Homo sapiens: one gene and its partners. The protein of the gene in region 2 interacts with the protein of the main gene of each other region in a biochemical or structural test. Each region holds a gene or a part of one and is shown on either strand. Other genes may lie near its edges.

Evidence for each region.
Region 1: the proteins of KLHL2 (region 2) and ACTC1 interact in far-western blotting, tested with the Homo sapiens proteins (one study listed by BioGRID).
Region 3: the proteins of KLHL2 (region 2) and UCK1 form a complex in vitro, tested with the Homo sapiens proteins (one study listed by BioGRID).
Region 4: the proteins of KLHL2 (region 2) and WNK1 interact in a test that uses a peptide from one of them, tested with the Homo sapiens proteins (one study listed by BioGRID).

Annotation. Positions count from the first base shown.
Region 1 is NC_000015.10:34,789,695-34,792,551, reverse strand, and holds the end of ACTC1 (actin, alpha cardiac muscle 1), read left to right. Parts: coding exon 1-144; intron 145-270; coding exon 271-462; intron 463-1,256; coding exon 1,257-1,438; intron 1,439-1,996; coding exon 1,997-2,140; 3' UTR 2,141-2,322; downstream 2,323-2,857. UniProt on the Homo sapiens protein: Actins are highly conserved proteins that are involved in various types of cell motility and are ubiquitously expressed in all eukaryotic cells.
Region 2 is NC_000004.12:165,294,547-165,301,583, forward strand, and holds part of KLHL2 (kelch-like protein 2), read left to right. Parts: intron 1-3,062; coding exon 3,063-3,179; intron 3,180-4,960; coding exon 4,961-5,110; intron 5,111-7,037. UniProt on the Homo sapiens protein: Substrate-specific adapter of a BCR (BTB-CUL3-RBX1) E3 ubiquitin ligase complex that mediates the ubiquitination of target proteins, such as NPTXR, WNK1, WNK3 and WNK4, leading most often to their proteasomal degradation.
Region 3 is NC_000009.12:131,528,258-131,535,931, forward strand, and holds the start of UCK1 (uridine-cytidine kinase 1), read right to left. Parts: upstream 3,007-7,674; 5' UTR 2,918-3,006; coding exon 2,810-2,917; intron 2,431-2,809; coding exon of another isoform or gene 2,389-2,430; coding exon 2,229-2,388; intron 1,328-2,228; coding exon 1,231-1,327; intron 1,014-1,230; coding exon 871-1,013; intron 782-870; coding exon 687-781; intron 1-686. UniProt on the Homo sapiens protein: Phosphorylates uridine and cytidine to uridine monophosphate and cytidine monophosphate. Does not phosphorylate deoxyribonucleosides or purine ribonucleosides. Can use ATP or GTP as a phosphate donor.
Region 4 is NC_000012.12:755,556-762,592, forward strand, and holds part of WNK1 (serine/threonine-protein kinase WNK1), read left to right. Parts: intron 1-7,037. UniProt on the Homo sapiens protein: Serine/threonine-protein kinase component of the WNK1-SPAK/OSR1 kinase cascade, which acts as a key regulator of blood pressure and regulatory volume increase by promoting ion influx.

The DNA of each region.
Region 1 (2,857 bases), on a different chromosome or scaffold from region 2:
GGGATGGTGTAACTCACAATGTCCCCATCTATGAGGGCTACGCTTTGCCCCATGCCATCATGCGTCTGGATCTGGCTGGTCGGGACCTCACTGACTACCTCATGAAGATCCTCACTGAGCGTGGCTACTCCTTTGTCACCACTGGTGAGTGTGTGTGTCTCATCTGCCACAGTGTGGGTCTGCTTTCCTCCTCTCTCACTGAATCCGCCTACCTCCCTATAATTGACTTCTTGCTTCAGAGCATGACTGTGATACTCTTTATTTCTGTAGCTGAACGTGAAATTGTCCGTGACATTAAAGAGAAGCTGTGCTATGTCGCCCTGGATTTTGAGAATGAGATGGCCACAGCTGCCTCTTCCTCCTCCCTGGAGAAGAGCTATGAACTGCCTGATGGCCAAGTCATCACTATTGGCAATGAGCGCTTCCGCTGTCCTGAGACACTCTTCCAGCCCTCCTTCATTGGTGAGTTGTAGGGTCTGGTGCAGAGGCACGATTTTCCCTGGAAATCTTAGGGTCTCCCAGAGTAAAATCTAGAAGGCTCAAGAAGCCCTTGAGTTAAAAGAAGTCATAGTTTGGATTCCCACACAGCTCAACCTCAAGTCCTGATGGCTCATTAAAGGGGAAGTCTATGTTCTGCTCTAGTGATATAATAAAGGATGACACACTGAGTTCATCTCAAAATAAAGGATGACACAGAGTAGTAACTGAATAGCACGTATCTGCAGGAAAAGGGCTAGTTCACAAGAGCTGACTTATTCCCGTAAGTTTCACTACCAAGTAGCTGGACTTTCCAAGTTCCTCATCATTAAATGCAATAACATTCCTACTCATATTAATAACTGGGCACTTATATGTCAACAAATATCCTTCCTAAGCAATGCTTTCCATAAGGAACTTTGTCAGGATCTGATTTAAGTCCATAAACAAAAATTACATTCATTTTAGTTTAAACGTGTATCTTTTCCTTTTCCAATACATCTTCATACATCTGAGAGTTTCAGGAGGTGTTTACTTGAAACAGGTGCTAAGCACAGTTGCTCCTTTCTTGGCATTGTATTGTGGATTAACTGTGAGGCACCCATTCCACCCTGCAGTGTGTCTTATAGGGGAACATATGTTTCAGAGACAAATGGTGACAGCTCCCCCACACAAAGAAGTTCTGTTCTCTTCCCTCTACCTTGACCTGAATGCACTGTGATGTGTGTGTGTGTGTGTGTGTGTGTGTGTGTGTGTGTGTGTGTGTGACTCGTTCCCAGGTATGGAATCTGCTGGCATCCATGAAACAACTTACAATAGCATCATGAAGTGTGACATTGATATCCGCAAGGACCTGTATGCCAACAATGTCTTATCTGGAGGCACCACTATGTACCCTGGTATTGCTGATCGTATGCAGAAGGAAATCACTGCTCTGGCTCCTAGCACCATGAAGATTAAGGTAAAGAACTTTTGTGAGTGGGAGATCCGAGGCAAGTCTTGGTATTCTAAGCAGAACTACGTTCCAAATTCCTTTTCCCTCATACTCAGTTTCTTGTCTCCTACAAACTTTACCTGTTAGCTTTTCTACCACTTTTTCTGATTTTCTTAGCACTTTTCCCAAGATAGGTAACTTCCAAAATGCTTTTAAGCAGTGAATAAAAATAAATCTTTGACAAAAAAAAGACACACACACACGCAACAAAATCTTTGAATACATTTTTAAAGCTCCCAACTTTTGGGCTAGGCTCCACTACACATTTAGCTTGTTGCCAAATTACACTCTAGGTAAGTGGAGAAATTCCATTTTAATAATAGAATATATCTTTAATAATATAAATGATGAAATAGAGGTGAGTTCATATAACTTGATTGGCCACATTATTTCGTGGTATGACATATCCCACATTATAGCGAATTAATATCTAATGGTTTTTTTCTGTGAATCCTCCCAATGTGTTATTTGCTCCCTTGCTTGGAACTTCAGAGTTCACTGGAAGTTTTTGTTTTCTTTCTGCAGATTATTGCTCCCCCTGAGCGTAAATACTCTGTCTGGATTGGGGGCTCCATCCTGGCCTCTCTGTCCACCTTCCAGCAAATGTGGATTAGCAAGCAAGAGTACGATGAGGCAGGCCCATCCATTGTCCACCGCAAATGCTTCTAAGATGCCTTCTCTCTCCATCTACCTTCCAGTCAGGATGACGGTATTATGCTTCTTGGAGTCTTCCAAACCACCTTCCCTCATCTTTCATCAATCATTGTACAGTTTGTTTACACACGTGCAATTTGTTTGTGCTTCTAATATTTATTGCTTTATAAATAAACCAGACCAGGACTTGCAACCTATAAAAGCCTCTCGTTTGTTTTTGGGGTAGGCGTGGGGTGGGGCAGGTGTTTGCTTTGACACCCTGAGCATTGTCAAAGTTCAGTACCACAAGGTTCATCCAGATGAATTAATATGACAGTTAGCTGGGAGTTATAATGCTAACTTTTGATTTCATATTTTGAGACAGAATCATGAATATATTTCATACCTGAAAAGCAGATTAAGGTTTAGTTCCATATAAGTAAGAAATGAAATTGAATAAGATAGTTCTCTAGAATTAGTTGCTGCAGATGACACTGAAGATTATTTTAACATATGTTCCAGTTGTTTTTGTAACCTTGCAGAAAATACACATATATTGATAATGAGAAAGTCAAAGATTATTTTAAATGAATTGGCTTAACTTTTCAATTCTTTGAACTCTTCAATTTTCTTCCTGGGGGCTATGAAAGAAACATGAAGGTTAGCTGACAGTTGGGCCAGCCACATCCCATTGCAAATACCCTCTAAACATATCAAGACCATTGTGTGTGTGCAAAACAAATGTGAGGAAGC
Region 2 (7,037 bases):
TGTGATCCTGTATGTGTAGTGACAGCCAGTGATGTTTCAACTGGAAGTTAAGAAACTCAGCTAGTTACTTCAGGAAAGGATTCCAGGAGAAAAAAAAGAAACTCAGGACTTGTTGATTGTCTATGTAAATTACTCCCGGTCTTCACTTTGTGGGAGGTTCCCTAAATTTTTAGCCACTACAGTTTTGTACTTGACCTCCACAGCAAGAGCTTGCACACATTAGACTATCTGAAACAAATGCTTTTTTGGAAACTAGTTTCTTCCTACAACTCAATGCCTGTAGGAATTATGATGTGAACATAATATTTGTCACTAAATTAGTTTCCTTGTCTTCTGAGTTGAAAGAGGTTACCTAGGATGGCGAAGTTTTGGTAGTTCTAGACTGAACATTCTTGATTGTCACCTTCCTTTAGATTGATTTCCTGTGACATAATACCTCACCCCTGCCAGTCCGTTCAGCCTGCCTGCCTCCCTGACTCTCTCCCTCCCTGCCTCCCTCCCTCTCTGTGCAGCTACTGCTTCTGGTTGTAGTCTTTTGTCTCTCCACGTTTTGAATTACCTTTGTCAGCCACCTGCACTTTTCGTATAGTTGGAGAGAGAAGCTCCTTTTAGTGGGCTGTTTTTCCTTGGGTGGGTTTTGTAGCACACGGGAATCAGAGCACAAAAGCTGTGCTTAGAGGAAATGAAACTTGAGTTTCTCCTTTGTGTGCTTAGCATTTCAAGTTGTGTAAATTCTGATTCTCTTTCTCAAGGCTATTCATTTCACCTGGGGTTAAAGACACATTTACTCTAATATTTACAGTATTAAAAAATGTGAAAGCATTTGTGACATATATAATCTTAGCATCCTAGAAATACAGAGGAAGATGACATTACTTTCACACTTAATAGACATGTATTGAGTGCCTTCCATGTACCAGACACTGCCATGGGCTCCTAGAGAAGAGAAGATTAGCAGAATAGAATTTGTTACTCATAGACTAGTGGGACAGCCAGTAGAGTAAATAATTGATTACAGAATGCTGTAAAGGGTGCCTTAGGAGCATTTAACTTTTCCAGGAATGGGATAGGTATGGGGATGGTAGTTCAACTTGGTTCAGATGTATATTTCAAGTCTTTTAAAAATGAGTCTGAGTTTGCCAGAGAAATAGGGATGGGTGGGAATGCAGAGGGCATTCCAGGTAGAAGAAGCAGAATATACAAATGTAAAGAGATATGAAAGAGTAATTGTATTCAATGTGTTCAGTATGATGGGAGTTTAGAATATGAGACATTGGTGGAAGATAAAATTAGAAGATGATATAATAAAATATCTTCTCAGCTATGTTAAAGAAAATTAACTGTATTGTAGTGATGAGCCTTAAAAGGGTTTTAAGCCAGAGGAGAAAACCATGCCAAAACCTGCATTATAGAAATATCATGAGGGCTGTTCTGGTTTTCTGCTGCTACTCAAGTCATTGCCAAATGTAAAAGCATAAACAATAACCATTTTATGCTAACAATTCTATGGTCAGAATTCATGCAGAACAATAGGGACAGCTTGTCTCTGCTCCACAGTGTCTGAGACCTCGGCTAAGGTGACCCAGATGCCTGGAGATACCTGGCATGGTTCTACTGGAGCCATAGATCTGGAGCTTCAGTTCTTCTGCACATGGCATCTTATGGGTCTGTAATGTCCAAGGTGGCTCCTCCACCTACTTTTGTCTGGCTCCGGGGCTCCCGGTTGATTGGTCTCTCTCTAGGTCTCCCTCCTCTCCCCTCCTTTCTTCTCTGTAACTTGCATGGGTTTCTCATGGTGTGGTGGTTTCAAGTAGCCAGACTTCTTACATGACATTTGGCTTCCTTCAAATGAGCATTTCAAGAGAGCAGAGTAGAAGTAGTGAGGCTGCTTAAGACCTACCTTCAGAAATTGCACAGTGTCCCTTCCTCCGCACTCTACTGGTTAACAGGGCCAGCTTAGATTCAGTGTGGAGGGTTACTATATAAGGGTATGGATCTGGGAGATGTGGTTTATTAGGAGGCTATCTTTGGAGACTAGCTATCTGGTGGTGGTGGGCAGTATGGACCAAAAATGAGGTGAGGGCCAGATGAGAGGATGTTGAAGTCATACCAGTGAGCAGCAGGTTCCGATATGGGATGATAGAAGCAGGGGGGAGAGAAGACAGAACTGAGAAATATTAGATAGAATTGCCAGAAGGCCGACTATCTTGTTCACCTAATCTCTGGCACCTGGCACGTAGAGACACTTGATAAATACTTGTTGACAGAATGAATTAAAGAGGGGTGTTAATTTTAATGTGCATTATTTTTAGTTTCTTGCTTTTTTTTTTCAAACTTTGCAAAATGTTTTACTACCTCCATTCTGTTCATTCTTGTTATTTATTTGCAGAAATCAATAAAAGGTTGCCAAAATGTAAGCTGATCCACAAAGTATGAGAGAATTAGTTTCTTGCTTTATTCCTGGATCAAAATAACCTATTTTTGGTCTCAGTTATCCAATTGCATATTGTCAAACATTTCCTGCAAACCTTTAAAGATTATTAAGTGATATATTCATCAGTTGAGAAGAAAATTATGTAGACAAACAGTGTCTTCATATTAGCTTATTAGCTTTCTCACAATTATGTATTGTAAAAAATAATGCCCTTATTTTTTAATTTGTAAAAAAAAATTTCAAAATACTACATTTTAATATATTCTGCTATTACAGAGCTGAGTCGATCTATTGTACAAACCTTCGATTTATGTGTATGGTCTAACATTTGTTTGTAAACCTGAAGAAAAAGCCAAACATGAATTGTTTATAAGGATACATGATTTTCATTCCAGAATATCACTTTGCTTTATTATTTTGGGTAAATAAAAAAAAAAAGAACAGAAAAGAAATGGGGTGAATGGCTTTGTAAGTACATTGCAAGTCAGGATTTTGAAAACACTTGAGCTGTGAATTAAACTTGGATGTCTTAGCAAGAGTTATATATAAAATGTAGTCTCATATTTTATCCAGATGCCTTGATACACAACTCATTTCTTATTTTTTCTTCTCCTATATTTTCTGCAAGGTATTTGAAGCAGTAATAGCATGGGTGAACCATGACAAGGATGTGAGGCAAGAGTTTATGGCCCGACTGATGGAACATGTACGGTTACCTTTGCTTCCTCGGGAATATTTAGTTCAGGTAAATGCATATGCAAAACATATGAATCCACACAGCACTGTGTCACTGGCCTGACAGCATGTAGATCCCTATCAAGCAGTGATAAGAGCTGTAGAATGCAGATCTGTGGAGTACAGGACAGAAGACAGTAAAGGACCCCGCAGGCTGGAGTGCAGTGGCGTCATCTCGGCTCTCCGCAACCTCCACCTCCCGGGCTCAAGTGATTCTTGTACCTCTGCCTACTGAGTAGCTGGGACTACAGGTGCATGCTACAACCCCAGCTAATTTTTGTATTTTCAGTAGAGTTGGGGTTTTGCCCTGTTGGCCAGGCTGGTCTCGAACTCCTGACCTCAAGTGATCTACCCGCCTCGGCCTCCCAAACTACTGGGATTACAGGCCTTGTGAGGCACCACACCCAGCCACCATTCCCCGTTCTTAGAAATTTGCTTTTGCCCCTATTTTTGATTTGGGTAAGCAAGTACTAGAGCTTATCAAGGTAGTATTTGTGGTCACTTAAATACATGTAAATAAATGTCCCTGTGGCAGTCACTGCTTTGCATCTTCTTTACTGTTTTTTTCTTTCCATAGTCTCTTCTGATTCCCCTGCAGACCTGGAATTTTGAGGTCTGACCCAAATACCGTTTAATTTTACTTCGTAATTTAATAGTGGCATGCATTTGATTTCTGTCTTTATTTCTAAGCTGAGGGAAAACATTATTTGAAATAAATGTGAAAAATGATTCTTTAGTGGTCTCCAAATAATTTTAAATTTACTGTTTTTTTTATTAGAATCCCGCTAGGAACATTTCAGCATTATTTTAATAATTGAAACCATTGAAAGAATCATTTATTAAGAAATTAGATTTGAACATTTTAGGATTTCTTGAAATCTCATTACTTTTTGTGATCTGTGTAATCATGGGTCTTCTGGTATTAAGAAGATGATCCAAAAGGGTGGGTGCGGTCAGTGGCTCACGTCTATAATCCCAGCACTTAGGGAGGCGGAGGCAGGCATGAGGCCAGGAGTTCGAGACCAGCCTGGCTAACGTGGTGAATCCCCGTCTCTACTAAAAATACAAAAAATTAGCCAGACATGGTGGCAGGTGCCTGTAGTCCCAGCTACTCAAGAAGGTGAGGGAGGAGAATTGCTGGAACCCGGCAGGTGGAGTTTGCCAGGATTGTACCACTGAACTCCAGCCCGGGCAACAGAGTGAGACTCTGTTCCCTTCCCCCCGCCCCCCCTCCCCCCCCAGAAAAAAGAAAACGAACCCAGAAGCCTGTCCTGCGTTTGAGGTCAGGCTAGGCAGTACAAGATTTATTTGTGTTATGGGTACGTTGCTTTAAGGTATTTCTAATCTCTTTTTGGGATATTTTACTTGCCCACTTGTGTTTGAAAAAGGTATCATTAACTTATTAGTATTGTCTTCACCTGAAGGATGTATTATCTAAACTTTGTTTCTTGTTTTGCTTACTTTTTGTCTTAAAGGTTAAAGATACACAGGTGGATATAATATCCGAAGAGTTCATCATATTCCATAGCTAACATTGAAGTTTATCATTTTTCACTGTGGTTCTTCTTTTTATTACCTATATATGTTTTTCTCTGCAGGCCAGATACTTGAGCATTTTTTGGTTATATTTATTTTTCTCTTAGATGTATTTATAAACTTTCCTCGTTTATTTTTAGACTAAACTAAAGGATATAGTTACTGCTTTTTTCCTCTCCTTTACTTCTTTTTCTTTGGCAATTTAATTATGAAATAGCCCTACCCTCAGTGGGTGTGTCTGATTTCTTGTTACAGAGGGTTGAAGAGGAAGCATTGGTCAAGAATAGCAGTGCTTGCAAAGATTACCTCATTGAAGCAATGAAGTACCATTTGCTGCCAACAGAGCAGCGTATATTAATGAAGAGTGTCCGGACCCGGCTGAGGACACCCATGAACCTTCCCAAAGTAGGATCTGTTTCTCATGCTTGTTATTACCTCATGCAAAAGGCTTATAAGTGAAGCTGTTAGTATTTTGCTCATTTGAATTTCCGTGATTTATTGTTTTAGTTTTCCTTCAAGAGAAAATGTGCCTAAGAATGCATTGTAGTGTATGTAATTCAACCTCTATTGATTTTATATGTTAAGGGTGGGGATTCTTTGGTCCGTTTAATTTTTATAAACTGCATGATGTCACTCTTCTGGAACAGAAGACAACTGGTTTTTGTCCCCTCTGAGTTTTATTAGCTCTAATTATAGTAGAAAGCTCTAATTATAGTCCAAAAAAATCAGACCAGGTAGAAGGATTTCTCTGTAGGCCTGGGGTGCTGTGATTCATGCCTGTAATCCCAGCACTTTGTGAGACTGAGGCCAGTGGATCACCTGAGGTCAGGAGTTTGAGACCAGCCTGGCCATCTACGTGAAACCGTGTCTCTACTAAAAATACAAAAATTAGCCACGTGTGGTGGCAGGTGCCTGTAATCTCTGCTACTCAGGAGGCTGAGGCAGAGAATCACCTGAACCCAGGAGGCGGAGGTTGCAGTGAGCTGAGTGGAGTGCCCACTGCACTCCAGTCTGGGCAACAATGTGACAGGCTCTGTCTCAAAAAAAGAAAAAAAAAAAAAAAGAATTATTTTGTAAGCTAGGTGTTTGTTTAATAACTGAAAACCCAGTAGTTTCACAGAATTACACATTAGAACTACAGATGATAAAAATAGCTTGTTCAGTTCATCTCATTGCTGTTCCCTGCTGTATACCATTTGATGGTTCCCTGCACATCATATGTAGCCATTTCAGCATACATTCCCATGTCTTCCCGTGTGTCTCGTGTTCATATTTTCCTATGTGAATGTTTATATTCTACCTTGGTCTTTTTAGCTGTGGCCATTCATATTTTACCAATTCAATTTTTCTTATGAAATAACCCCTCATTTCTGTCTCTGTTGGCAATTCCTTCTGCTCTGTTTACATCTTTATAGTACGACCAATACTTTAAGCACCATTTTGTGCGTGGTCTAATCAGAATGACTCATAATATAAAGACTTTATTTATGTATTTATTTTTAACTCTTGTATATGTTTCGGGCAATGCTGGATTAAGAAATAAGAATCTGTTCTCTCGTTTTCTTATATCATCTTCAGTTATTACTCTGTCCTTTCCATTGAATTGTTTTTTAAATTCTTTCACTTTAATACTTTAATATTTTTCTAAGTTTTACTTTGGAGTCTACATTTTTAATTGCTGCAAATCTATATTGGTATTGTTTTTCTGTTTTGCCTATTACTAACAACAGTTCTCAATTTATAACTAACTGCAGATTTGCCAGGATGCTGTTGACTTATTTTTCTAGATCGTTAGCAAATATTTTAATTTAGAATTGATCTCAAAACTCTCTTGGTGGCACCTTGTTAGAAGTAGCCAGCCACTGACACAGTCTATTTGTGGAAAGTTTCATTCTATATGATTATTATCTAAGCCAAAATAAGTAGTTTGGCATATAACATCTGATGAGGTTGAGGATCAAATGGATTCAAATTTGGCATGACTTTTTAAACATTCTTCTGCATGGTATTTTATTGGCCCCTAGAAGTTCAAATGCTTTTCTCAAAATCTTCTAAATTTTTACTCAGAATTATCATCACTTAACAAAGTGTATTTACAAGGTATTCACTTCCTATCCTGGTTTGAAAATTTGGTATTTGCTTTCTTTAAATTTTCTGATCTATCCTCAGTTCTCTGAGATTTTTCAGAAATAATTGTAAGTGGCTCAGTAAGTACATTAGCTAGTTCCCTTAATACCTCAGTATTCATGCCAGGTCTGCTGATTTTATATGTGTTTACATTTTTCAAATACCCTTACACCTGCTTTTATAAGTACCCATCTTTTAAGTCTTC
Region 3 (7,674 bases), on a different chromosome or scaffold from region 2:
TTTTTACCTTAACAGGCAAAATGTTCCCGTGCAAAACACTCCCATTTGAGTAGAGCCACGAGTCCCACCAAGCCAGAAACACAAGATGGAGAAATGGAGAAAAGACAGGTGGGTGTGCAGCGGGGAGTTCCTGCTCTCTGCGAGCCAGCTGGGATCTGGGCACAGCGCTCACTCCAAGATTTCAGAGCACTGGCCCAGAGCAGCCTGGGGTCACAGACCCTGGAGGAGCAGCTCTGAAGCACCTTCTGAGGGCCAGATCCCGGCCTTGGCAGTGAACAGACTAAAGTGCTCCTGGGCTTCCCCACTCTGCGGGGAATAAGCACCCAGGACGTGTCAGATGATGGTAAGTGCCCCGGAAAAAGGAAGCAGGCAGAGAGGCTGGCGCTGGGTGCAGAGGGTTTTCAGTGTTGAATGGGGACGCTGGGCAAGGGCCTGAGGCAGGGAGGAAGCGGCCAGTGTGAATGTGGGGGAGATATGGGGCTTTTTTAGGCAGAGGGAGGAGCAGGCACAGAGAATGTTTTTACAGCTGAGAACTACTCCCAGGGTATGTGGCCATAATGAGCCAAATTCTTCTCCTTTTTTTCAATCAGATCACTGTCACCCAGCACTAAGCCCTCTCACAGTACTGGGTCCCATGTGTCCTTGTGAAAGGGGAAAATGGGCTCTGAAGCAGCGAGCACAGGTACCGGCAGGCAGAACTCCTCGAAGGCCGGCTTCACGAAGGTGGTGTACTGCGTCAGAATCTGCTCCAGGTCCCTCCCTCGGCGCACGTCCCGGAGAACTGCAGCGGCAAGGGGCAGGCGTGCTTCAGACCTCAGGACCTGCCGCCAGCCTCGGCCAGGCAGGCACGGAGGCCCGCGGCCGCCTTACCTCTTCGAGACAGCCTGACGTCGGAGTCGGTGTCCACGAAGAGGCGCAGGTGGAACATGTCCCGGATCTCCTGGCTGTAGAACACCAAGATGCCCTCAAACAGAACCACGTCCGCAGGGTAGACCACCGTGGTCTCTGGTAACCTGAGGGGCGCACGGGGAAAGGGGCTCTGCTGCAGACACAGGGTCTCCAGGCCACACACACAGTCAGCTTCCATTGCAGGGACACTGACTGTGGGAAGGGGTGGGGGACCCACAGAAACCAACCGGGGGAGGCCTGCCGCCAGGCAGGTCTGTGTGAGCCCGAGGGGACGTCCTAGCTGGCCCCTCTCCTCGGCCCTCCCTAGAACCACCTGCTTACCTTGAGTGTGTCACAAAATCATAGGTCGGCACCTCCACCGTTTTGCCCTCCACGATGTTCTTCAGAGTCCTGTGCATCAAATCATTATCAAAGGCATCTGCAGGGTTGGAGACAAAGGCAAGACAGGCAGATGCCCTCGTGCAGCGGACAGCAGGGAACCCTCTCTGCTCTGGGGTCAGCACAGCTGGGTGCTGGGGACACCGAGAACCCTAGCACAGGTAGACTAGGACTACGGCAGTGTATGTTTGGTAGCAACAGTGCCCTCTGCAGCCCTGCAGACCACAGGATGACCCTGTCCTTGCTGTTCTCGGGCTGTGCCACTGCCCAAGCTCTGTGCCCCTGAGATGCCGGAACACAGGGGTTTTCTGATCAGCTCTTCCTGGGAGGTGGGTAGGCTGGGCCTCTGCTTCTCTCTCTTTCTGGGACTAACTGGTTAGACTGCGGCTTTGCAGGCCTTCTTCCCACAAGTCCTTGGGAAAAGGCTGACCATGCCAGCCAGCCAGGGTGGAATCTTCTAGCAGTGGCAGGTGTCTCCCTGCCGCATCTGCCCGTTTACCTGGCCCGGAGCTTCAAGCCACCAGCACTAGTTTACCTACCGCCTCCCACACTGGCCTCTCTGAGGACTTTGCCCCAAAGCACGGGAGGGCACAGTGGGCAGAGGTGTGTGTGGAGGGCCCTAAAGGCCCCAACGTGGGAAGGGAAGATGGGAGGATTTCTCCAGGATCACAGTTGTGGCAGGGCAGGGCAGGGCTCCCCACAGTGCAACAGGCTTCCTGACTGGCTCCAACCACGCTCCTGGGGGGACACTCAGGGCCCAGAGAACTCAGCAAAGTTCCCCTGACTTCACTGTGCAGCCAACTCCACTGCAGGCTGCGTGGCGAGTTGGGGGAACAGCCCAAGCGGGTCTGCATCCATCCAACCTTGGGCCCAAGCGCAGCTGGTTAGCGGCCGCCCAGAATGGGGTCTGCCCTCCCCACATCGTTGGGCTCGCGATTTACCTGGATGGTCAAAATTGTACTGTCCTTTCAAGGCCTTGGCCTTCTGCTCTGCCGTCAGGACCTTGTAGAACCTGTCCTGGCTCAGGATGACCACCTTCCGCTGCCGCTGTTCCACCTCGTTCTGTCCCAGCAACTCCATGATCTTCTCACACACGGTCGACTGGAGACACAGAAGCGGGATTCCCGCCTGGAACCGCTCGTCCTGTGACAGGCACGGGGCCGGCTTCTGGAGACACTGACCCACCCGCCCCCTGGGGGGTATGCTCGGAAGGCGGGAGGACACCAACAGGTGTGGATGGTCTCAGCGGAAGGGCCGCGGGGGCCCAACGGGGTTAGCACGGACTTGGGGCTCCGAGGAGCCCGGCCGGCGGAGAGGCTGTGGGGGAGCCCCGAGGCCCAGCGCCCCAACCCCTCGCCCGCCCCAGCCCGCCCCGGCCCATCGCGGCCTGCAGCCCCTTCGCTCCCGCGCCCTGCCCCTGCCTGGCAGGGGGCCCCTCGGCCGGGGCTGGGGTCTCCTCTCTGGACCGGGCCGCCCGTAGGCACCGGCGAGAGGCGAGACCCCGGCCCGCTCGGCCCCTTACCTTCCCGCTGGCAGTGCCGCCGCTCACCCCTATCAGGAAGGGCCGCTGGTGCGGACGGTCGGCCTCCGGCGCGGGGCTCTCGCAGTCTTCGCCTCCCGCCGAAGCCATCTCGGCCTCCGCTCCCGCGCATCGGGTCCCCGCGCCCGCCCCTTCCCCAGGCCCGGCGCGCCCGCCCAGCGCCGAGGTCGGAGGCAACCGGAGCGATCACTTCCGGGAGGCGCGCGGGGCACGCCGGGAGTTGTAGTCCACCGGGGGGGGGGGGGCCGCGCATGCGTGAGGGTGCAGGGCCCGAGGCCGGCACACCAGGAGCGCCCGCGTCCCATTGCGCCGAAAGCTGGCTGGCAGGGACTGCTGCGCCCGGGCCTCGAGCCGGCTACAAGGTCTCAGACTCAAGTGGCCCGGAAGGTGCCCGTTCCGCACCCCGAGGCTGGGGCTGCGCCTTCGTCCGAGTGCTTGCCTCTGCCTCGCGCTGCCTCTGCGCCAGTCCCGGGCCCTCCCCCGGCCGCCCCCGGGCCTGGCCCCCTCCAGCCCAGGCTCCTCTTGGCCATCGAGGCCTCCGGACTGTCCGGACGCCTCCCACCCCACCCGCTGCTGGAGCCGTCGGGGCGCCCCGGAACGTGGCGGGGGCTGTCGCCTGATGACTTTAGGCTCGCGCCTACAGCGCGCCAAGGAGGCAGAGGCCCATGTGCCGGGTTCCATCCCTGCCGCCCCCCCGCTCCGTGCCTGGCACAGAGAACGTGACAGGCAAATTCTGATCCATTGAAATTATGGATTTCCAGCCGGGCGCGGTGGCTCACGCCTGTAATCCCAACACTTTTGGAGGCTGAGGCGGGTAGATCACGAGGTCAGGAGATCGAGACCATCCTGGCGAACACGGTGAAACCCCGCCTCTACTAAAAATGCAACAAATCAGCTGGGCGTGGTGGCGGGCGCCTGTAATCCCAGCTACTTGGGAGGCTGAGGCAGGAGAATCGCTTGAACCCGGGAGGTGGAGGTTGCAGTGAGCCGAGATGGTGCCACTGCACTCCAGCCTGGGCCACAGAGCAAGACTCCGTCTCAAAAATAAAAAAGAGAGAGAGATAGCTAAGGCTCGGGGCAGAGCATGCTTTTCATATACAAAACAGACAACCCCGGGCGGACGCGGTGGCTCACACCTGTAATCCCAGCACTTTGGGAGGCCGAGGCGGGTGGATCACGAGGTCAGGAGATCGAGACCATCCTGGCTAACATGGTGAAACCCCGTCTCTACTAAAAATACAAAAAATTAGCCGGGCATGGTGGCGGGCGCCTGTGGTCCCAGCTACTCGGGAGGCTGAGGCAGGAGAATGGTGTGAACCCGGGAGGTGGAGCTTGCAGTGAGCCAAGATCACGCTACTGCACTCCGGCCTGGGGGAAAGAGTGAGACTCTGTCTCAAAAAAAAAAAAAAAAAAAAAAAAGACCCCAAGTCTACAGCCCCAGCTACCTCCTTATCTAATTCTCGCCTTTGGAGGCAAGATTCTCCCTGCCCTAAGTCACCCAGGGCCAGGTATCAGGTGACTAGAGACCACTCTGCAGCCCAGAGCCTGCTAGAATTACTCAAACTAGCCAATTTTAAACTCTTTCCCTGCCCTGCCAGGCCTTTTCCATGGAAACCCCAAGAAAGCCTCAGGCCTGGGCTCTCCCCTCGCCCCTGCTTCTGCCTCCTGACCAAACCTGGGGTTCTCTACTGAGAACCGTGCATGGCATGGGTGCCCCTTCTCTCAGGAAATGCGATCAATCTTGCGATGGCTTTGGCCTCTCCTCATGGTCATTCAGCCGTACCTCTGTAAATTAAGCCCCAGGCACAGAACAGTGCCTAGCAAACAGCCACGCTGCTGGCTTAGATCTGTCCAGGTGTGTGTCCCAAAGGTGGCCATCCCCCAAGCCAACTTTGAATTTGTATCAAGGGAGAGTTAGACACGGTTTCTTGCCATTTCTTCCCCTGTGGTCCAGCCACGTAGCGAAAGGCAGGGAAACTAGCAGAGTCTGACCAGGGGCTGTCCCTGATACCCCTGGCCTGGGTCTCGTGTGCCCTCTCTGGTGACTGGCCACAAGGCATGGGCTGCCAGGGCCAGTCAGGCTATTGCGTGGTTCCGCTCCCAAGGCAAAGGGACGCTTTGGGAAGGAGCCACTCCCTGGGAGCAGGCCCAGCACCCAGGAAGCCCACAGTCCAGTAAACAAGGCCCGGGCCCACACGGCTCAGGCCTCTGGGCCACAGTGGCTCCCCTATGGGACCATCCCAACCACCACCAAGCAGAGGGCCAGCCCCAAACCTCTAGCTGGTCCCCAACTCCCCATATTGTGAAGAAGAGTGACTTTTATGGGTTTTTTTTGTTCGTTTTGAGACGGAATCTTGCTCTGTTGCCCAGGCTGGAGTGCAGTGGCATAATCTTGGCTTACCGCAACCTCCGCCTCCCGAGTTCAAGCAATTATCCTGCCTCAGCCTCCCCGAGTAGCTGGGACTACAGGCACCTGCCACCAGGCCCGACTAATTTTTGTATTTTTAGTATAGAGACAGGGTTTTGCCATGTTGCCCAGGCTGGTCTCGAACTCCTATTCACCTGCCTCAGCCTCCCAAAGTGCTGGGATTACAGGTGTGAGCCTCTGTGCCCAGCCGAAGAGTGTCCTTAAAGAAGCATGAGTCAGCCGGGTGCAGTGGTTCACGCCTGTAATCCCAGCACTCTGGGAGGCCGAGGCAGGCGGATCACTTGAGGTCAGGAGTTCGAGACCAGCCTGGCCAACATGGTGAAACTCCATCTCTACTAAAAATACAAAAATTGGCCGGGCACGGTGGCTCACGCCTGTAATCCCGGCACTCTGGGAGGCTGAGGCAGGCGACTCACGAGGTCAGGAGTTCAAGACTAGCCTGGCCAACATAGTGAAACCCCGTCTCTACTAAAAATACAAAAAATTAGCTGAGCACAGTGGCGGGCGCCTGTAATCCCAGCTACTCGGGAGGCTGAGGCAGGAGAATCGCTTGAACCTGGGAGGCGGAGATTGCAGTGAGCCGAGATCACGCCACTGCACTGCAGCCTGGGCAAAAATAAATAAATAAATAAGTAAATAAATAAGCCGAGCATGTTGGCATGCGCCTGTAATCACAGCTACTCAGGAGGCTGAGGCAGGAGAACTTGAACCCAGGAGGCAGAGGTTGCAATGAGCTGAGATCGTGCCACTGCACTTTTTTTTCTGTCTGCAAAAAAAGAAAAAAATAAAAACTAGCTGAGTGTGGTGGCATAGGCCTGTGGTCCCAGCTACTGGGGAGGCTGAGATGGGAGGATTGCTTGAGCTTGGGAGGCAGAGGTTGCATTGAAGAGAAATCGCGCCGCTGCGCTACAGCCTGGGTAACAGAGCGAGACCCTGTCTCCAAAAAAAAAAAAAAAAACAAAAAAACGTTGTTGCTGAATTGGGGGGTGGGGGTAGGTGGAGAGTTGGGTGGAGGCTTGGAGCCCTCGGAGTTTGGGTTTCCCAGAGCCAGGCAAGGCAGTACTCCTAAGAGTGACCACTGTCTACTCTGGATTCATTCTCTTACCTGCTCTCTGGTGCGGGATGTTGAAAATCGGGGAGGCTGTGCATGTGGGGGAGTGGGGAGTATATAGGAAATCTCTGCACCTTCTGCTCAATTTTTCTGTGAATCTAAAACTGCTCCCCCTGCCCCCTCAAACACATGCAGTACAGGAAACACCGCTCTCCATGGCTGCCCTCCTCCCTCCTCCTTCAAGCCACCCTAACCACTACAAAAATGTCAGCTCATGCCAAGCATGTCCTGAAGCTTTTATTGAACACTAGCTGGCTCTCAGCGCTTAAAGAGATAAGCAGGTGCCTGCTGTTTTAAGTATTGATTGCCCTTTTCCCTGTAATCATAAAAGTGACTCCTGCTGATTGCAGAAAATGTATACACACAAACACACAACCAAAACTAGAACCACCCCTTACTCCTCACCCAGGGAAAAGCATGGTTTTGAGTTCTGGGGTGTGCCCTTCTGGTCTGACATGGCTGTTCTAGATAACGGAACGAGAGGCTAAACAAGGTTTGGTGGTGTGGGTTTTTTTTTTGTTTGTTTGTTTTTCGAGACGGAATCTCACTTTGTCTCCCAGGCTGAAGTGCAGTGGCGCGATATTGGCTCACTGCAACCTCCACCTCCCAGGTTCAAGTGATTCGCCTGCCTCAGCCTCCTGAATAGCTGGGATTACAGGCGCCTGCCACCACGCCCGGCTAATATTGTATTTTTAGTAGAGATGGGGTTTCACCATGTTGGCCAGGCTGGTCTCAAACTCCTGACCCTCAGGTGATCCTCCTGCCTCGGCTTCCCAGAGTGCTAGGATTACAGGCCTGAGCCACCGTGCCCGGCCAGTTGCATATCTTAAATAGCATTAAAGCCTCACAGCCACCCTGCGATATGGGTACCATTGTGATACCATTTTCCTGATGGGTAAATTGAGAAACAGAGTGATTATGTGGCTTGCCCAAGGCTTGCAGCTGCAAGAGACCTCCGTCAAGTTGGCTGAGACAGCAGGTGTAGGAAGCCAACGCACATATTCACATATACACACTCGACACACACACAGAACTGCACCATCTCCCTGCTCAAAGACAAGACGGGGAAACATGACAGCCAGGCTCTTGGAATGAAGAAGGTCCCATAGCCAGTGGTTTGAAGCTGAGTTGCCTATAAAGGGTCCAGGACCAGGTATGTCTTAGGGGTGGGAGTCAAAGCCGCAGCTTCACACACAGCAGGAGGTTCTGGAACTGGCCCTCTGCAGACAGCTGGAGCCCAAGATGAGTTGCCCTTTTGTGAAACTAGAGAAACCAGTGCAGCACTCGAACTCTGGGTAAACGGAGTCA
Region 4 (7,037 bases), on a different chromosome or scaffold from region 2:
TAAGGTAGTGTGAAATTAAAACTACTCATTAATTTTATAGTATTTTAGAATTGAAAAGGTGACAGATCTTTAAAAAAAAAAAACCTCGTCAAACGAAAACTGTTCATTTTGGTCAGTCATATTCAAAAAACTTAGTCTGGGCCAGGCACGGTGGCTCACGCCTGTAATCCCAGCACTTTGGGAGGCCAAGGCGGGTGGATCACGGGGTTAGGAGTTCGAGACCAGCCTGACCAACATGGGGAAACCCCGACTCTACTAAAAATACAAAAATTAGCCGGGTATGGTGGCGCGCGCCTGTAATTCCAACTACTCGGGAGGCTGAGGCAGGAGAATATCTTGAACCCAGCAGGTGGAGGTTGCAGTGAGCGGAGATCGCACCATCGCACTGCAGCGTGGTGACAGAGCGAGACTCCGTCTCAAAAACAAACAAAAACAACAACAACAAAAAAACTTATGTCCGATTCCTTTTGGTTTACAGGCAGAAATTTACAGGTAGACACATTTCTTTCTTGTACTATCGATGCTTATTGATACTGATGCTGGAATTTTATTCTTCCATTATAGTTTTATATTTGAATAGGTGCTTTTTAACAATTTTGTTTTCCTTAACCGGTTACCTTACTTTTTTAAGACTGGACCCAATTACTTGTTGAGCACTTTATGAATTAATTTTGTTAGTTTTAATTATTTCACTTCTGAGACTTCTTAGCATGTGATGTGTGTTTTCCTTTTATCACCTGGAATTTTCTGATACTTTATTATCTTGGAACTGATAATACAGTGAAAAAAACTTAATTTGTCTAATGTCACGATAAAAACTTTGTCCAAGCTTCTCAGGTTTTCTTAGAACTCGTAACTTTTTGGATTTTTAATTCTCTATCTAGGCATGGGCATTACCAAACTAAAGAAAATCTTACATCGCATATTATTTTTGAGTCATTTCAGGATTTGGCTGCAGAACTAGATGAATCCTAGCTTATTAAGTGGTACCTGGTTTAGAAACTTCCATGTTATTTGTCTGTGCTTCTGTAATTTTTTGTTTTGATTTTGAAAAGATTATCTTACCTGAAAAATCCTTTATAGCAGTAGTTAGGCAGTATTTTTGGTTTTTTGACCAGGACACTTGCACTACATGCCTAATAAAATATTCAGTGGGTCAGTGTTTGAACTTTTATCTTTGGAGCCAAATTAAAGGACAAGCCAAGGGATTACTAAAGCACTGGAAAGATAGAAACTTTTTCGCTAAATCTATCCTTTTAATATACATATATTTCTGAAGCAAGACAGGAGAATATTGAGTTAAGTTGTTGAGTTAAAAATCTTAGTGTATTGAAACTGGGAGAAATCTTAGGTTATTCTGCCCAGCTATTTATTTGACAAATAAGGAACCTGAAATCATAGAGCAGGTAAATAACTTGATTAGGTAGATGAAGAACAAAAGCTAGTTAGGATCTAATAATTTGGGAGATGACAAAGCATTTGTAGTCCAGTAGATGGCTAATAAGTCATTTCAAATGAAGCAATATTGTGTTGGTGTGGAAGTGGCTGTTGGATTTCTGGAGAAACCCGGTCCTTATACCCATGGCAAATTTCAGGCTTCTGTTTTGGGTGTTGATTTTTATCACTTCAAATTGAGATATAAATAGGCTTTTGTGGATGGGTCAATATGGTATACAAATCAAGCTATTTTCTGTCATGCTAATTTTTTTAGAGTCATGCTATGCATTGCTCTTTAGTAAAACAAGCATCAATTCTTTTTTTTTTTTTTTTTTTTTTTTAAAAAAAAAAAGAGACGGAGTCTTGCTCTATCTCCAGGCTAGAGTGCAGTGGCGCAATCTGAGCTCACTGCAACCTCCGCCTCCTGGGTTCAAGCGATTCTCCTGCCTCAGCCTCCCAAGTAGCTGGGAGTACAGGCGCACCCCACCACACCCAGCTAATTACAAGCATCAATTCTTAGTAAATAATGCCTAGGTAATATTTTGATACCACAGGACCTTCAGTAATTACCGAGATGTTTAAGATGCAGATTTCTTTAACTGGTTTTATTAGACAAGTAGTGCACCTTAATTTTAATATTTGGTTGTCTTGGTCAGAAAATATTACTGTTGGGCTCTATCTGCAGAGTTTACATTGCTTTTCTAGAAAGGGATCTGGTTTTTCAAAAAAGATAGCATAATTTCCTTTAAGAAAACATTGATGGAGCCGGGTGCGGTGGCTCACGCCTGTAATCCCAGCACTTTGGGAGGCCGAGGCGGGTGGATCACGCGGTCAGGAGTTCGAGAACAGCCTGGCCAACATGGCGAAACCCCATCTCTACTAAAAATACAAAAATTAGCTGGGCGTGGTCCGCACGCCTGTAATCCCAGCTACTCGAGAGGCTGAGGCAGGAGAATTGTTTGAACCCGGGAGGCAGAGGTTGCAGTGAGTCGAGATCGCACCACTGCACTCCAGCCTGGGTGACAGGGTGAGACTCTGTCTCTAAAAAAAAAAAAAAAAAAAGAAAGAAAGAAAAAGAAAACATTGATGCACAGATTTAAGAATGATTTATTTTAAGCACCTTCCCAAGTTGCCTCTGAAGAGTTCACATGATGCGTTATATGTTGATGAGATTGTTTCCACATCTACCTGAAAAGAGAGGTTAAATCATATTTTTGTTGAAGCTCCAATATACTTAACTGCTTATTTTTCTCTGTCTTTTATTAAGACTGTGTGTCATGAGTACATGACATTAATATTTTGTGAATAGTATAGCAGTGTTACAGAAATGGGATGTGGTTCTGTGATTAAGAAACCATCATTTATTTCTTTGCTATAGTTCTTTTTTTTTTTTTTTTTTTTTTTTTGAGACGGAGTCTCGCTCTGTCGCCCAGGCCGGACTGCGGACTGCAGTGGCGCAATCTCGGCTCACTGCAAGCTCCACTTCCTGGGTTCACGCCATTCTCCTGCCTCAGCCTCCCGAGTAGCTGGGACTACAGGCGCCCGCCACCGTGCCCGGCTAATTTTTTGTATTTTTAGTAGAGACGGGGTTTCACCTTGTTAGCCAGGATGGTCTGCTATAGTTCTTAAAATATCTAATTGAACTGAATCTCTCTATTTGAATGTTGGTGATTTTTTCCCTCTTATCTTTTAAATTTGTGCCACATTCCTTATTTTTTAGGATGAGAATCAGCGTAACTTTCCGTCTCAGGGAATAGTTTTTGGAGTTTGTTCTTAAATCCTCAAAGTCACCGATTAGGAGTATTGGCAAATTTTTTTCTCTTACCTTTTTTCTGACCCGTAGTAACACAGTCTGAGAAGTAATCTAAAAACCTGGAAAGAGGTTGTTTTTGTGTAAAACAAACCAGGAATCTATTGTTGCTTTGTGACAATTCATTTCTTGACATTCAAATTCTGATGCAAGAGCCTAGTCATTTAAAATTTATCTTATTCCACCAGCAGCTTATCAAAGAATTTCAAAAAATAAAAAATATATGTATATAAATATAAATAAAATTCATCTTAGTTCATCCCTATGGAAACATTCAACTAAAACTGGGCTCTCATTTTCAGAAATCATCCTAAACCTGTTATTTGGGTTTTCTGGTAGTTTTTACATTTTTTTAGATAAAGCTGTAAAAGCAGCAAGAGTAGCTGTACTCAATTATCATTTCTGAAAATATTTAGCATACTATGAAATAATTCATAATTACCGTTAGTACACCTTTGCTATACCAGTTCTTTAAATTATATTGATAATTTAAATTATATATTTAGTAACTTGCATTTTGTTTGAGTTTTTTGTTTTTTTGTTTTTGAGACAGAGTCTCACTCTGTCGCCCAGGCTGGAGTACAGTGGCGCGATCTCGGCTCACTGCAACCTCCACCTCCCGGGTTCCAGCAATGCTCCTGCCTCAGCCCCCTGAGTAGCTGGGATTACAGGCGAGCGCCACCACGCCCGGCTAATTTTTGTATTTTTAGTAGAGATGGGGTTTCACCATGTTGGCCAGGCTGGTCTTGAACACCTGACCTCGTGATCTGCCCGCCTTGGCCTCCCAAAGTCCTGGGATTACAGGCTTGAGCCACCATGCTCAGCCGTTTTGTTTTGTTTTAAAACCTGGTCTGCAGGAATAGGTGAGACTTAGCATGACCTCAGTTTATGTTTGAAGAGGCCATTTTTCTGCCTTGTAACATAGTAGTTAAGAACTAGATTGCCTGGGCTCAAATCAAGGCTCAGCTACATAATTGTGTCACCTTGAGCAAGTTTTGTGCTACAGTTTCCTGTCTGTAAAATGGGTGTAAAAAAGAGTACCCATTTTATAGAGTTGTGCTGATTAAATGAATGAACATATATAAAACATGTAGGATAGGGCCTGCCACATAAATATTAACTGTGATGATGCAGCATCTTTTTTAGGTTGTCCTTTTGAGGGAATCTGTGAAGATTTTGTTTGTTTATATTTATGCTTGAAAAATCATATAGCAAAACTTAACTACTGTTCTTGGAGGAGGAGGAAAGCAGGTATTGATCTTTATGTTACTGGTGCTTTTAAATTCCTTAGCTCTACCTGGCCTTTGCCTAACATTTTAATTTTGTGACCCATCACCCAAATGCCAATCTTTCTGAACTGCTTATTTTCAGAATCTGCTAAGATCCTTGTCTCATCTTTGCATGTATCTAGAAAGCATATTTTCTTTTGGTGGATCTCATATATAATTCTTATAGTATTTATTTATCATATTGAAATTGTTTATATATTTTGTCTAATCCATTAGTCTTTGGAAAGTTCACTATGGTGTAATAGAATACTATACAATGAAAAGGAGCACCAAGGCAGAACCCTTGAGTTCTAGATTACCCAATTTTCTGAGCTTTGAGTAAGGAACTTAATCTATAATGCTCATTTATTAGCAATATGTCTTACTGATTTAGGATTGTTGAAGATCCACTGAAATACTATGTGAATGTACTTTGAAAAATGTTAAGTGTTATATAAAATATAACAGAATACTTAAATATTCATTTAGAAGGCTATAAATTGTCACCTATTACAAATGGAATATATTAAACTTAGTTGGATTTTAGGAGCTTTTTGCTTTGTCAACTTAATTTCTCAAATCTTAACAGGGGAGCTTTTCAGTTTGAAGAAACATTGTCAGAAGCTCTTAATATTTTATTTGGAAGATGATTATGCCTTTGACAGGTAGCAGGCTTAATTTTATATGTAGTTTTTTTTTTATTGTTGTTGTTTTTGATGGGGTCTTGCTCTGTCGCCCAGGCTGGAGTGCAGTGGCGTGATCTTGGGATCTTGGCTCACTGAAACCTCCACCTCCTGTGTTCAAGCGATTCTCCTGCCTCAGCCTCCAGAGTAGCTGGGATTACAGGCACCCACAACCACACCCGGCTAATTTTTTTTTTTTTTTTGTATTTTTAATAGAGACAGAGTTTCACCGTGTTGGACAGGCTGGTCTCAAACTCCTGACCTCAGGTGATCCACCTGCCTTGGCCTCTTAAAGTGCTGGGATTACAGGCATGAGCCGCCGTTCCTGGTCTATATGTAGTTTTTAAAAGATTGGTTATTTGTGATTTTTACATAAGAGGAAAAGCATCAGTAAGCTGTGGTTTTGTGGCCAACTTAATTGATCATATAATATCTCCACCTTCACTTACATTAATTTAGATTTTTCAGGTGGGGTTTCATAAATAATTTACTTTTTAGTGTTGTGACTTGAATCTTGGCTTTGCCAAATTACCATATTAAATACATTATGCTAAATGAATATGTTGGAATGATTTTTTAGAAGAGTCCTCAGATAAGCTGTTAGTCATAACAAGCAAATAATTTTCTCAGGAATGTAAGAATTCTTAAGAATTTTAACAGTTTGAATTTAAGAGTGTTTGGAAATTTGCTTGTTGTAATCATCATACTCAGGTTAGTTAAGAAAAACCACAGTCATTCCTGCAGATACCTTTTGTGCAGCTGAGGTTCAGCTTCTCAGAGACAATATTATTTTTGTCAGTAGATACGTGGTAGATGGTCTAGTTAACCAAACACACACTAATGTATAAACCAAACAGTGAGAGATGAAATTAATTAGTGAATCAAATGATTAATGTGCACATTCTCTGTTACTAGATAGAGATTAACAGATTTCTTGGGATAAGATCATTTTCATGGCTAAGAGTTTTGAGCTACATAACCTGATATATCTATCTTTATGTGGATCATCTCCTTCCATGGACTGGTAGATTATTGTGGATTAAGGTAAATCGGGAAATGCAACAGATTTATCTCTTTAACATGCTAAAGAGTTACTAGATATCATTGTCATATTAAAATGTTCTTTGAACTCTCCATATTGCCCCTCTCACACACAGTCATCCGTCAGTATACACAGGAGATTGGTTCCAGACAGCCCCCACCCCAGGGTACCAAAATTCACAAATGCACAAGTCTCTTAAATAAAATGGTGTATTTTCATATAACCTACAGTAGTACATCCTCCTGTATAGTTTATTTTTTAATTTAATTTTTTTTTTTTTTTGAGGCTGAGTCTTGCTCTGTTGCCCAGGCTGGAGTACAGTGGCACAATCTCAGCTCACTGCTACCTCTGCCTCCTGGGTTCAAGCGATTGTCATGCCTCAGCCTCCCGAGTAGCTGGGATTACAGGCACATGCTACCATGCCCAACTAATTTTTGTATTTTTAGTAGAGATGGGGTTTCATCACGTTGGCCAGGCTGGTCTCGAACTCCTGACCTCAAGTGATCCATCTGCCTCTGCCTCCCAAAACGCTGGGATTACAGGTGTGGCTCCTCACGTATAGTTTAAGTCATCACTAAATTACTTATAATACCTAATACAATGTAAGTGCTATGTAAATAGTTTTTATACTGTAGTGTTTTAAAATTCATGTTGTTTTTTATTATTGTGTTTTGTTATTGTTTTTTCCCCCAATATTTTCATCTGCAGTTAGTTGAATCCATGGATGCAGAACATGTGGATATGGAACCTGAGGATGTGGAGGGCGGACTGTTCTTATGTGTAGAAAGTAGAGAGTA